Linked DNA regions of Homo sapiens: region 1 is linked to region 2. A link means that fine-mapping ties the variant in region 2 to the expression of a gene that starts in the linked region. Tissue or cell type: cerebellum. Region 2 holds a variant in brackets; the other region holds the start of a gene. All regions are shown on one strand. Distances are from middle to middle.

What was found. PIP is the estimated chance that this variant, and not a neighbour inherited with it, causes the effect.
Region 1: it holds the start of ADA2, and the variant in region 2 is fine-mapped to the expression of ADA2 in cerebellum (GTEx, PIP above 0.99). The same link has a PIP of 0.9 or more in cerebellar hemisphere.

The regions. Positions count from the first base shown.
Region 1 is chr22:17,216,199-17,221,687 of GRCh38, forward strand. ADA2 (adenosine deaminase 2) reads right to left here and starts at 3,237. Exons shown (of 10, transcript NM_001282225.2): 1 at 3,158-3,237. RefSeq lists enhancers at 2,614-2,974, 2,815-2,884, 2,895-3,024.
Region 2 is chr22:17,194,580-17,199,821 of GRCh38, forward strand. The region is part of intron 4 of ADA2 (adenosine deaminase 2); the gene reads right to left. It overlaps LOC107985573 (a long non-coding RNA gene), which reads right to left and starts at 4,210. Exons shown (of 2, transcript XR_001755419.2): 1 at 4,020-4,210; 2 at 3,482-3,836. RefSeq lists enhancers at 741-1,256, 3,807-4,311, 4,312-4,815, 4,816-5,242. The variant C/T (reference allele first, on the strand shown) is at 2,726.

The sequences.
Region 1 (5,489 bases), 22 kb after region 2:
AAATATAATAATAAAAATTATCCATGTGTAGTGGTACACACCTGTACTCCCAGCTACTCAGCAGGCTGAGGTGGGAGGATCACTTGAGTCTGGGAGGTCAAGGCTGCAGTGAGCCATGATGGTGCCATTGCACTCCTGCCTGGGTGACAGAGTGAAACCCTATCTGCCCCACTCCCAGGAAAAAAAAAAACCTACAGTTAGATAGAAGAAATAAGTTCTAATGTTTCATAGTAGACTAGGGTGACTATACTTAGCAATAATATTATGTATATTTCAGAGTAACTAAGACCGGGCATGGTGGCTCATGCCTGTAATCCCAGCACTTAGGGAGGCCGAGGCAGGTGGATCACAAGGTCAGGAGTTCAAGACCAGCCTGGCCAACATGGCAAAACCCTGTCTCTACTAAAAATACAAAAACTAGCCATGTGGCGTGTGCCTGTAATCCCAGCTACTTGGGAGGCTGAGGCAGGAAACTTGCTTGAACCCAGAGGGCAGAGGTTGCAGTGAGCCGAGTTCGTGCCACTGCACTCCAGCCCGGCAACAGAGCAAGACTCCACCTCAAAAAAAAAAAAAACACACACACACACACACATATATATAGAGAGAGAGACTCAAATAAAATGGATTAAAGTTAAAATAAATAAATAAATAACAAATATAACCAGAGCACAAGATCATAAGACATGCTTCAAACTGAGAAAGAAACCAAAACAAAACACACAGAGATAAGGAACTGAGAGGAAACAAAGCAACACAGGAAATAAAAGAAAAACCTGAAAGAACTGTAATTAACATCCTTAAAGACATAAAACATTGTGTGTGTAAAACAGGAACAGGAGGTGATTAAAAAAATGAGAATTAGAAAGAACTTTCAGAAATTAAAAACAGCAAAGCCGAATGTTTAAAAATTTACTAGCAATATTAAAAATGAAGTTAAAGAAAATATTTTTAAAAGTAAAGCAAAATAGGAGAAAAGAAAATGAGATGATTATTGGTTGAAGAAATCCAACACCCAAATAACAGACATTTCAGAAGGAAAAAGAAAAAAAAAACAGGTGAAGGAAATAAGCCAATAAGGAATACAAGAAATTGCCCCAGAACTGACAGTCTTTAGATTGAGTACCTTGCACAGCACAGTCAATCATTCTGTGGCCACACCAAGGTACAGCATCTTGGTATTTCAGAGCATTAGCATTAGAAAGGATTATCAAAACTTGCAGAGAGCAGCCAGTTCAGGGTGGCAACGAGCAGGGACTGAAGGAAGGAAATGTATTCAGCATCTCCTCACACAAGGCTCTATGCTGCTCCTTTACCTGGGTTATCTATTTGAATTACATTTAAGAAGGGGCAGTGGCTCATGCCTATAATCCCAGCACTTTGGGAGGCTGAGGTGGGCAGATCACTGGTGCCCAGGAGTTCGATACCAGCCTGGGCAACATAGCAAAACCAAAATACAAAAATTAGCCAGGCGTGGTGTATTGAACCTGTAGTCCCAGCTATTCATGAGGCTGAGGCATGAGAAGTTCTTGAACCTGGGAGGCGGAGGTTTCAGTGAGCCTAGATTGCACCACTGCACTCCAGCCTGGGTGACAGAGCAAGACTCTGTCTCAAAAATAAATACGTAAATAAAATTTTTAAAATGAAAATAAAACGATTGTTTCTCTACACTTGAAAGTATGATACAGCATACTGGAACATGTCAAGACTGTAAATTAGGAGACCTTAGGAACAGCCTCAAATTAGTATCATTCTAACTGTGCAACCTTGGGCAAATCACTAACGTCTCCAGATCTCAGTGTCCTCACCTACAAAAAAGGTAACTTGGACAAGATCAGTGGTTTTCCAAGTGCAGCATGAATATCATCAGTGGCATAAATACAATCTTAGGTGGCTCACAAATGGATAGGGGTTATGTTGACAGATAGGTAATTTTAAAACATGTATTAGCACATCAAACCCATGATATCGTAACTATTATTGTTTTTGTTGAAAAATTTTTAAGTTAAAGAAAAATATTAAGTAAATAGAGGTGCAAGGATATGACAAAAATGGAAAGTTTGCTACTCATTAAATCATTTTAATATCCAAGATTCTTCCCAGCTCAGTTATTCTGTAGTACATCAGATAGCAAAGAAAATTTTAAGAAGGAACTAGTATCAGCAATATGCAGTTATGGCAGAAGCTGTACCCCCAAAATCAGAGTGCTGGACGTCAGCAGAACCCCTTTAACTTCATTAAGTCCTTGACTCTCTTTTTTGACCACGGTGTTTGCCTGCTACTAAAATCTCTAGGGCAGGAGCACGGTGACTTCTATGTCACCATCCCACCTACCCCATGCCACATTCTCCATCAACAGCCCCGCCCCTTGTCCCTGTCTCCCTGGTGACACATAACAAAGGCCATCAAGCTCCCAAATCTTCAACTCCATCCTCTCCAAGAAGGACCCCAAAAGCATTTGTGTCCCAGCAACTGTGAACTTTTCCAGGCTGCCAGACAGAAGTTTATCTAATGGTGGTCAAGACCTGCCTGGTTGAATACTAGTAAAAACAATCCTTATTCACAATTTATTGCTATATCTACTTCATCTTCTCTCCTCCACAAGATTTTCCTTTTACTTTTAAAAGAGGATGCATGAAAACTTCATAAAGTAGTTTGCTTCCAGACTAAGAAGAAAGGAGGCTGGGTGTGGTGGCTCTGCCTGTGATCCCAGCCCTTTGGAAGGCCGAGGCAGGCAGATCACCTGACGTCAGTCGTTCAAGACCAGCCTGGCCAACACGGTGAAACCCCGTCTCTACTAAAAATACAAAAATTAGCCGGGCGTGGTGGTGGGTGCCTGTAATCACAGCTATTAGGGAGGCTGAGGCACAAGAATGGCTTGAACTCGAGAGGCAGAAGTTGCAGAGAGCCGAGATCGTGCCACCACACTCCAGCCTGGTGACAGTGGAGTAGGCCACATGCATCTGTGGTCCTGAGTAAATGCCCTTGGGCCCATTTTCAAAAGCCTGTTGGGAGAAAGCCTGTTACTCCTCCACTGAGAGTCTCAGACCCAGCTCAGATGGAGACAGGGAGAGGTGCAGGTGGATCAAGCCCAAGCTCCGGACTTCCCAGCTACCTCCTGAACCTCATCATCCCACAGCTCCCAAAGGACCCCAGTTACCTCGGAACAGCTCCAGAAACTGAGGGCTGTTTGCTCAGCGCCCCAGCATCTGTGCAGAGCACCGGAAAAGCTCACCAACTGTTTCACTTCCTGTTGGGGTAGGTTTTATTTCCCTCCAGTGTGCACCAGGGATCCAACTAGAGGCCGGGGAGAGGGGCTCTGCAGTGCTGAGGCAGCCAGAGTGGCAAGTGTGTGGCTTACATGCATGCTTGCTGTGTGCATCTGAGTTTGATGTGGGGGGCTTGTGCGCATGTTCATGTGGGTGTTTGTGTGTTCGTGTGTGTTTCGGTTTATGTGCATGTGGGGTTTGTTTTTTTTTTTTTTTTTTTTTTTTTGTAGACAGAGTTTCACTCTTGTTGCCCAAGCTGGAGTGCAATGGCGCAATCTCAGCTCACTGCAGCCTCCGCCTCCCGGGTTCAAGCAGTTCTCCTGCCTCAGCCTCCCGAGTAGCTGGGATTGCAGGCGTGCGCCACCATGCCCCACTGATTTTTTGTATTTTTAGTAGAAATGGGGTTTCACCATGTTGGTCAGGCTGCTCTCGAACTCCTGACCTCAGGTGATCCGCCCACCTCGGCCTCCCAAAGTGCTGGAATTACAGGCGTGAGCCACCATGCCCGGCCGCATGTGGGTTTATTTGTGTTGGAGGGAGGGTGTGTGTGTGTTTGTGTGTACTGTGTCTTTGAAAGGTCCACAGCATGTTGGTTTTGGAAACAAGCACCGCAAAGAGGCACTCCAAAATCTGTTCATGAACTCTGGGAAGTTCTCCTTCCTCAAAATGTGATTGTGGACTGTGGGGCAACCCATTAGACAGAGAGTAAAAAGTAGCTATAATAAAATATATGTTTTAGGGGGGAAATCAGGGATGCGGGGACAGGACAGTAGAGGGGGCAGGAGGTAGGAGACAAGAGCTGGGGTGTGAAGAGGACCAGCAAGAACAACGCTCCAAGGGACAAGTGGAGCAGACAAGGCTCCTGTACCCAGGACGGTCAGAGTCAGACCTCGCTTTGTAGCTGGCCTTAGCACTGTAGCAGTGGGGCCTCGACCAAGTTGTTTCAACTCTCTATACTTCAGTTTCCTCATCTGAAAATGTGGATAATAAAAGCACCCACCACAGAGGGTCCATTGTCAGAATTAAAGGAAAAACACATGCAAAGTACCTGCCACATAGAAAGCTCTTGATAAATATTAGCCATGACTATTCTTAGAAGTAACTATTGGGATGCCTCATCCAAGCCAATTAGAAATGCAGACATGGGAGGCTACACCAGGGACCTCCATGTCACATGCATGGTCTAAAGACTCGATTGCACCCCACTCCTCCCCAGTCCCACTCAAATCTACCCCCAAGACCCCAAATCTACCCCCAAAAGCCCACGGCAGTTTCAGTTCTGCAGCTCCCATACATCTGGAGCCTTGATGCTCCTTTTTGTCATTTTCTCCAAAAAGTACCAAGGTCATTCATTTAATAAACAGGAAGAAATCCCAAAGTGAAAACACAGAGGGGTCAGGGATTCCCTCATCAAGAGTTCAAGACTAGGCTGGGCTCAGTGGTGCATGCCTGTAATCCCAGCACTTTGGGAGGCCGAGGCAGGTGGATCACAATGGAAGGGGTTCGAGACCAGCCCCTACTAAAATACAAAAATTAGGTGTGGTGGTGCGCACCTGTAATCCCAGCTACTTGGGAGGCTGAGGCAGGAGAATTGCTTGAACCCTGGAGGTGGAGGTTGCAGTGAGCTGAGATTGCACCATTGCACTCCAGTCTGGATGACAGAGTGAGATTTTGTCTCAAAAAAAAAAAAAAGAGTTTAACACTAATTTTTTGAAAGTTAGAGGAAGCAGAATGCACCGCAAGTAATAAGGAGAAACAAGATTGATTCCAGCGCCGCACAAAGGGAAACCACCAATTCTGAAAGTAAATCATGTGAAGGGTTTTTTGTGGGTTTTTTTTATACTTTAAGTTCTAGGGTACATGTGCACAATGTGCAGGTTTGATACATAGGTATACCTGTGCCATGTTGGTTTGCTGCACCCATCAACACATCATTTACATTAGGTATTTCTCCTAATGCTATCCCTCCCCCAGCCCCGACCCCCCCGACAGGCCCTGGTGTGTGATGTTCCCCTTGAAGGGTTTTTTTAAAGACCAGGTCAAAGCTAAAGATCAAGCTTTTCTTTCCAAACGCTTTAGCTAAAAGTAGGAGCTAATTTTCACATCTCCGAAGGTGGCTCCAGGACTCCAAGTCACACCTTGGCAAGGGTGTGGCAGCTGGCAGAGGACTGCAGGTCCTTGTCAGGCAGAACCTGCCGGGTTCTGGGGAGTGGAGACTCAGAT
Region 2 (5,242 bases):
CCCCCATGAAGCCTGGCACGTCACACAGCCCCCCACAACCTGCACCTGGCCAGGCCACTCACTCTGCTCGGGCAGTTTCCCTGACTGCCTGACCTGGCACAGCCATGCTCAGGGGCTACTGAACTTTAAGGCTGCCAGAGCGTGCCAGAAGGAAGAACCTTAGGTACTGTTCATTCAGGATCTAGTATTGTCTATTATTATTATTATTTACTGAAGAGGGTCAGAATATGTCACCCAATAGGCCACTTTAGCAGAAGAAATATTTTTAGCTGAAGGCAATTAAGAAGCAGCAAATGAAGAAAGAGCTCTTTGCCCACCTCATCTGCCTAAATTTCCCTTTGTGAAGGTGTCGCCCTCCCCTCTCCCGTACCAGGAGAATCACCCTTACCACCGGAAACAGAAAGTTGTTACCAAGATGGGTCTGCACAAACCAGCCTTATAAAATTGCCCTTATCTTCCATTAGTTTCCCCCATATGTTTGCCTGCCCACAATTTACTGTCCCTAGAAGCCCAAACCCCTTTTCCTTCATCTTGTCACTTCTTCACAATTTATTACCAGTTGTTAAAATGGAATATAAGCCCTCACTCTAACTTCTTTGGTGCTTCACGTCTTTTCAAGGAAGGCCTGCATCTATCTGTGCACATAGCAAATTCTTAGGCCGGGTGTGATGGCTCATGCCTGTAATCCCAGCACTTTGGGAGGCGGAGGCAGATCACCTCGGGCAAATCACCTGAGGTCAGGAGTTGGAGACTATCCTGGCCAACATGGTGAAACCTCATCTCTACTAAAAATACAACAATTAGCCGGGCGTGGTGGTGGGCGCCTGTAATCCCAGCTACTGGGGAGGCTGAGGCAGGAGAATCGCTTGAACCCGGGAGTTGGAGGTTGCAGTGAGCTGAGATCGCGCCACTGCACTCCAGCCTGGGCGACAGAGCAAGACTCCGTCTCAAAAAAAAACAAAACAAAACAAAAAAATTTTTTTAAACTTTTATTTTGCAACAGTCTTGCCGTGTCGTCCAGGCTGGAGTGTGGTGGTGCAATCTTGGTTCACTGTCTGTTTCACTCTTATTCTCTCATGGATGTACAGTAGAATTTTCCTGAAGCTGCATCATGTGTCATATCATTCTGACCGATAATGCCAATCATGGATTATGTGTTTGTATTTAGAATAATTTCTTTCCTTTTTTTTTTTTTTTTTGAGACGGAGTCTCGCTCTGTCACCCAGGCTGGAGTGCAGTGGTGCGATCTCGGCTCACTTTAACCTCCACCTCCTGGGTTCAAGCACGACTCCCGAGTAGCTGGGATTACAGGCACATGCCACCACGCCTGGCTATTTTTTTGTATTTCTGGTAGAGACGGGGTTTCGCCATGCTGGTCAGGCTGGTCTTGAACTCCTGACCTCATGATCTGCTCGCCTCAGCCTCCCAAAGCGCTGGGATTACAGGCATGAGCCACTGCGCCCGGCAAGAAAATTTCTTAATTTTGGCTGGGTGCAATAGCTCACACCTGTAATCCCAGCACTTTGGGGGGCCAAGGCGAGTGGATCACCTGATGTCAGTTGACCAGCCTGGCCAACATGGTGAAACCCCTTCTCTACTAAAAATACAAAAATTTGCTGTAATCCCAGCTACTCGGGAGGCTGATGCAGGAGAATCACTTGAACCCAGGAAGCGGAGGTTGCAGTGAGCCAAGATTGTGTGCCATTGTACTCCAGCCTAGGCAACAAAAGTGAAACTCCATCCCAAAAAAAAAAAAAAAAAGGAAAATTTCTTAATTTTAACATCTAATACAGGATATATCAATAGATATAATCCACATAAATAAAAGGCGTTTGAAATTAACAAAAATTTTTAAGAATATAAAGAGGTTCTGGGACCAGAAAGTTGGAGAACCACTGTGTTAACCCAACCCACAATTGTTACCTGCAGTTGTCTTGGACTCATCCAGCTGGTTCACAGCAGGGAAGAATAGGGTTCTGTCCTGACCTTGACCACCCTGTCATTACTGAGTCTCCTGCCCACACCCCCCAGCTAGATTGGAGGCTCCTCCAGGGTAGAGTCCTTGCAGTTTTACTCTCCCCACCTCCTCTCCTATGGCACCAGAGCAGGAGCTCCATAAATAAATATTAATTCAAGGAGAGTGCTGTCCACAGGAGTTTTAAAAGTACTAAGGCCCAGGCAGCAAGGGCAAATAGACAGTTGTTGGCGGAGTGGTAGGTGGAGTCATGCCAGCAGAATAGAAGGGAGACCAAAGAAATAACCTTTAAAAAATATTAACAAATGACAACTCTGCTTAAAAGAAGATCTCTGAGGCCTGGCATGGTGGCTTATGCCTGTAATCCCAGCACTTTAGGAGGCCGAGGCAGGCGAATCACCTGAGGTCAGGAGTTCAAGAGCAGCCTGGCCAACATGGCGAAACCCCGTCTCTACTAAAAATACAAAAATTAGCCGGGCATGGTGATGGGCACCTGTAATCCCAACTACTCGGGAGGCTGAGGCAGGAGAATCACTTGAACCCAGGAGGCAGAGGTTGCAGTGAGCCAAGATCGCACCACTGCACTCCAGCCTGGACGACAGATTGGTTCATGGGGAAATTTGGGAGCAGAGTGCTGTAAAGGTCATACAACTGGTTTGTATCAGAACAGAAACAAGGACTCGCAATTTCTTTTTTTCTTTCTTTCTTTTTTTTCTTTTTTTTTTTTGTCTGAGACAGGGTCTCACTCTG[C/T]GGCCCAGGCTGCAGTGCAGTGGCATGATCTTGAACAGCCTTGAATTTCCAGGCTCAGGTGATCCTCCCACCTCAGCCTCTTGAGTAACTGGGACCACAGGTGCATACCACCATACCTGGCTAATTATTTTGTTTTGTCCTGTTTTGTAGAGACAAGGGTTTTGCCATGTTGCCTAGGCTGGTCTCGAACTCCTGAGCTCAAGGGATTCACCTGCCACCATCTCCCAAAGTGCTGGGACTACAGGCATGAGCCACTGCACCTGGCCAGTACTGGCAGTTTCACTCAGCTTTCACTACCAGAGTATCATTCACTTAAGAAGTGTTGAGCTTCTACTACATGCCAGGCATATGCAGGGGGCTTTATGCCATAATCTCATTTAACCCTCAAAACTACACTATGAGGTAGGTCTCATTTTACAGATAAGGATTTTGAGGCTTTAAAAGTTTGAGAAGGCTGAGCACGGTGGCTCACGCCTATAATCCTAGCACTTTGGGAGGCCAAGGCGGGCGGATCACCTGAGGTCACGAATTCGAGACCAGCCTGACCAACATGGAGAAACCCCGTCTCTACTAAAAATAGAAAATTAGCCGGGTGTGGTGGCACATGCCTGTATTCCCAGCTACTCGGGAGGCTGAGGCAGGAGAATCGCTTGAACCCGGGAGGCGGAGGTTGCGGTGAGCCAAGATTGCACCATTGCACTCCAGTCTGGGCAACAAGAACGAAACTCCGTCTCAAAAAAAAAAAAAACAAAAAAATTGAGAAACTCAGTACCCCTGCATAATTAGTGGGGCTGGAGGCCGACCACATTTCAGAATTTTGCTTGCCCTGAGTTGTCTCCTGTCATCAGGAGGCCCCTGCCCCCTCCTGTAGAAAGGTGACAGTCACTAGAGTGACATCTCAGCCCTGGCGGCACATTGGCATCACTCAAGGAGAGGAAAAATGCCTGTGTCCCACCCCAGAGCAACCAAATCAGAATCTGTGGGGTAGAAGCTTGGTGTTTGTAATCTCCCAGGTGGTGCTAGGGTGCGATATACAGCTGGGCTGAAGATCTGCCACTGTTCCAATCGACAGACAAGTAAATAGCACAATGACAGCATAGTCGGATGAGTCCTGTCAAAAAGGGAGCAGTTAAGAGGGTGCGTGTTCTCGTAAAGCGACACCAGCAACATGACACAGGGTTCGCTTCATTCAGCAAGGAGCCAAATGGAATTTTGAATGAAAGGTCTGCTAAGAATCCAGGCAAAAGCATGGGGGCTGGGGAGCGCGGGTACAGGGAGCACTAGAAATGCTTACTGTATGAACGACAACGTCTTAGAAAACGTCTGGGAACGACTGTCACAGGTTCTCTGCCACCGACGTGTCTCCCATAAGCTCTCCCCTCCATAAGTGCCAGCAGGGCCATCCCCTGTGGATAACCCTCCGGGGTCTTGGAAGAGCCCCATGCTAAAGACTCAGGGGACCCAGTCTGGGCCTCAGACTCTGCCGTGGGGGAAGGGGCCGGAGCCCAGGAGATAAGACCCGCCTAGCGACCGTTGCTACCGGCGAGCAGCCTTTGTTACTGAGCATTAGGAACACAATGGGAGGCTCAGCGGCCAGGATAGTCCGTCCACAGCAGCCCAGGCCGGAATTAGCCTGCGACCAGGCAGGGGGAGGCGAGGGGGCTCAGCAAAAGGATTCTAGTGAAGACTGTTTTTAGTTGTTAATGTGTTGGTGGCCCCCCAACTCTGGCTAATGGGGGGCATTAAGACCTAGACTCTCCGTGGCAAAAGCCTTTGTTCCAGGGTCAGACCCGAACAAATGGGCACATCCCCTCCCCCTCCCCCTCCACCAGAATCCCAAATCCTAGCAGCCCAGCACCTTCTCCAAAGGTTGGCTGGGGGACGGGCGGAGACGGGCAGAGTGAGGACAGAGGACTGGAGCTGGGCAGGCCCCCAAGTCTCTCCACCTCCGGCTCTGGAAGGAGAAAATGGCCACCTGCAGAACAAGGGGGAAGATGGAACAGGAAGCCAGTGCTCTGGCCCTTCTCTTCCTCCCTCCGATCCAACCGCTCAGCAACTTCTCCCACATGCCTCCCCACCAGGCTCAAGATGAAAGCCTCTGTCTCAGCGTCTCCTCCCTCCCCTCCTCTATCCTCTTCCCCTCCACCCACGAAGATCCCAGGGTTCTGCGAGGGTCGGAGTTCCCTATGCACTCCCACACCAAGACAGTTGTCAGGATTTGCCCAACAGGAAGTTCTCCCCTACCAGAGCCCAGTTCCATTCCAGGGAATCCATCTCCCCTCCGGAAAAAGGAAAATTGAAGCCAGATGCTCTCTGGGATCGCCATTTGAGGTGGGCGTGGCTATTAGGACGCTCAGAGAGCCCAGCGCGGTGAGGAAAGCGACGAACTTAGGAGCCCTGGTCTGGGTCCAGCCACCCCTTACTACCTATTTGACCTTCATCAAGCTCTTTGACCTTTCCAGGCTTTAGTTTCGACATCAATAAGATGAATTAATAGCTGGGCATGGCTCGCGTCTG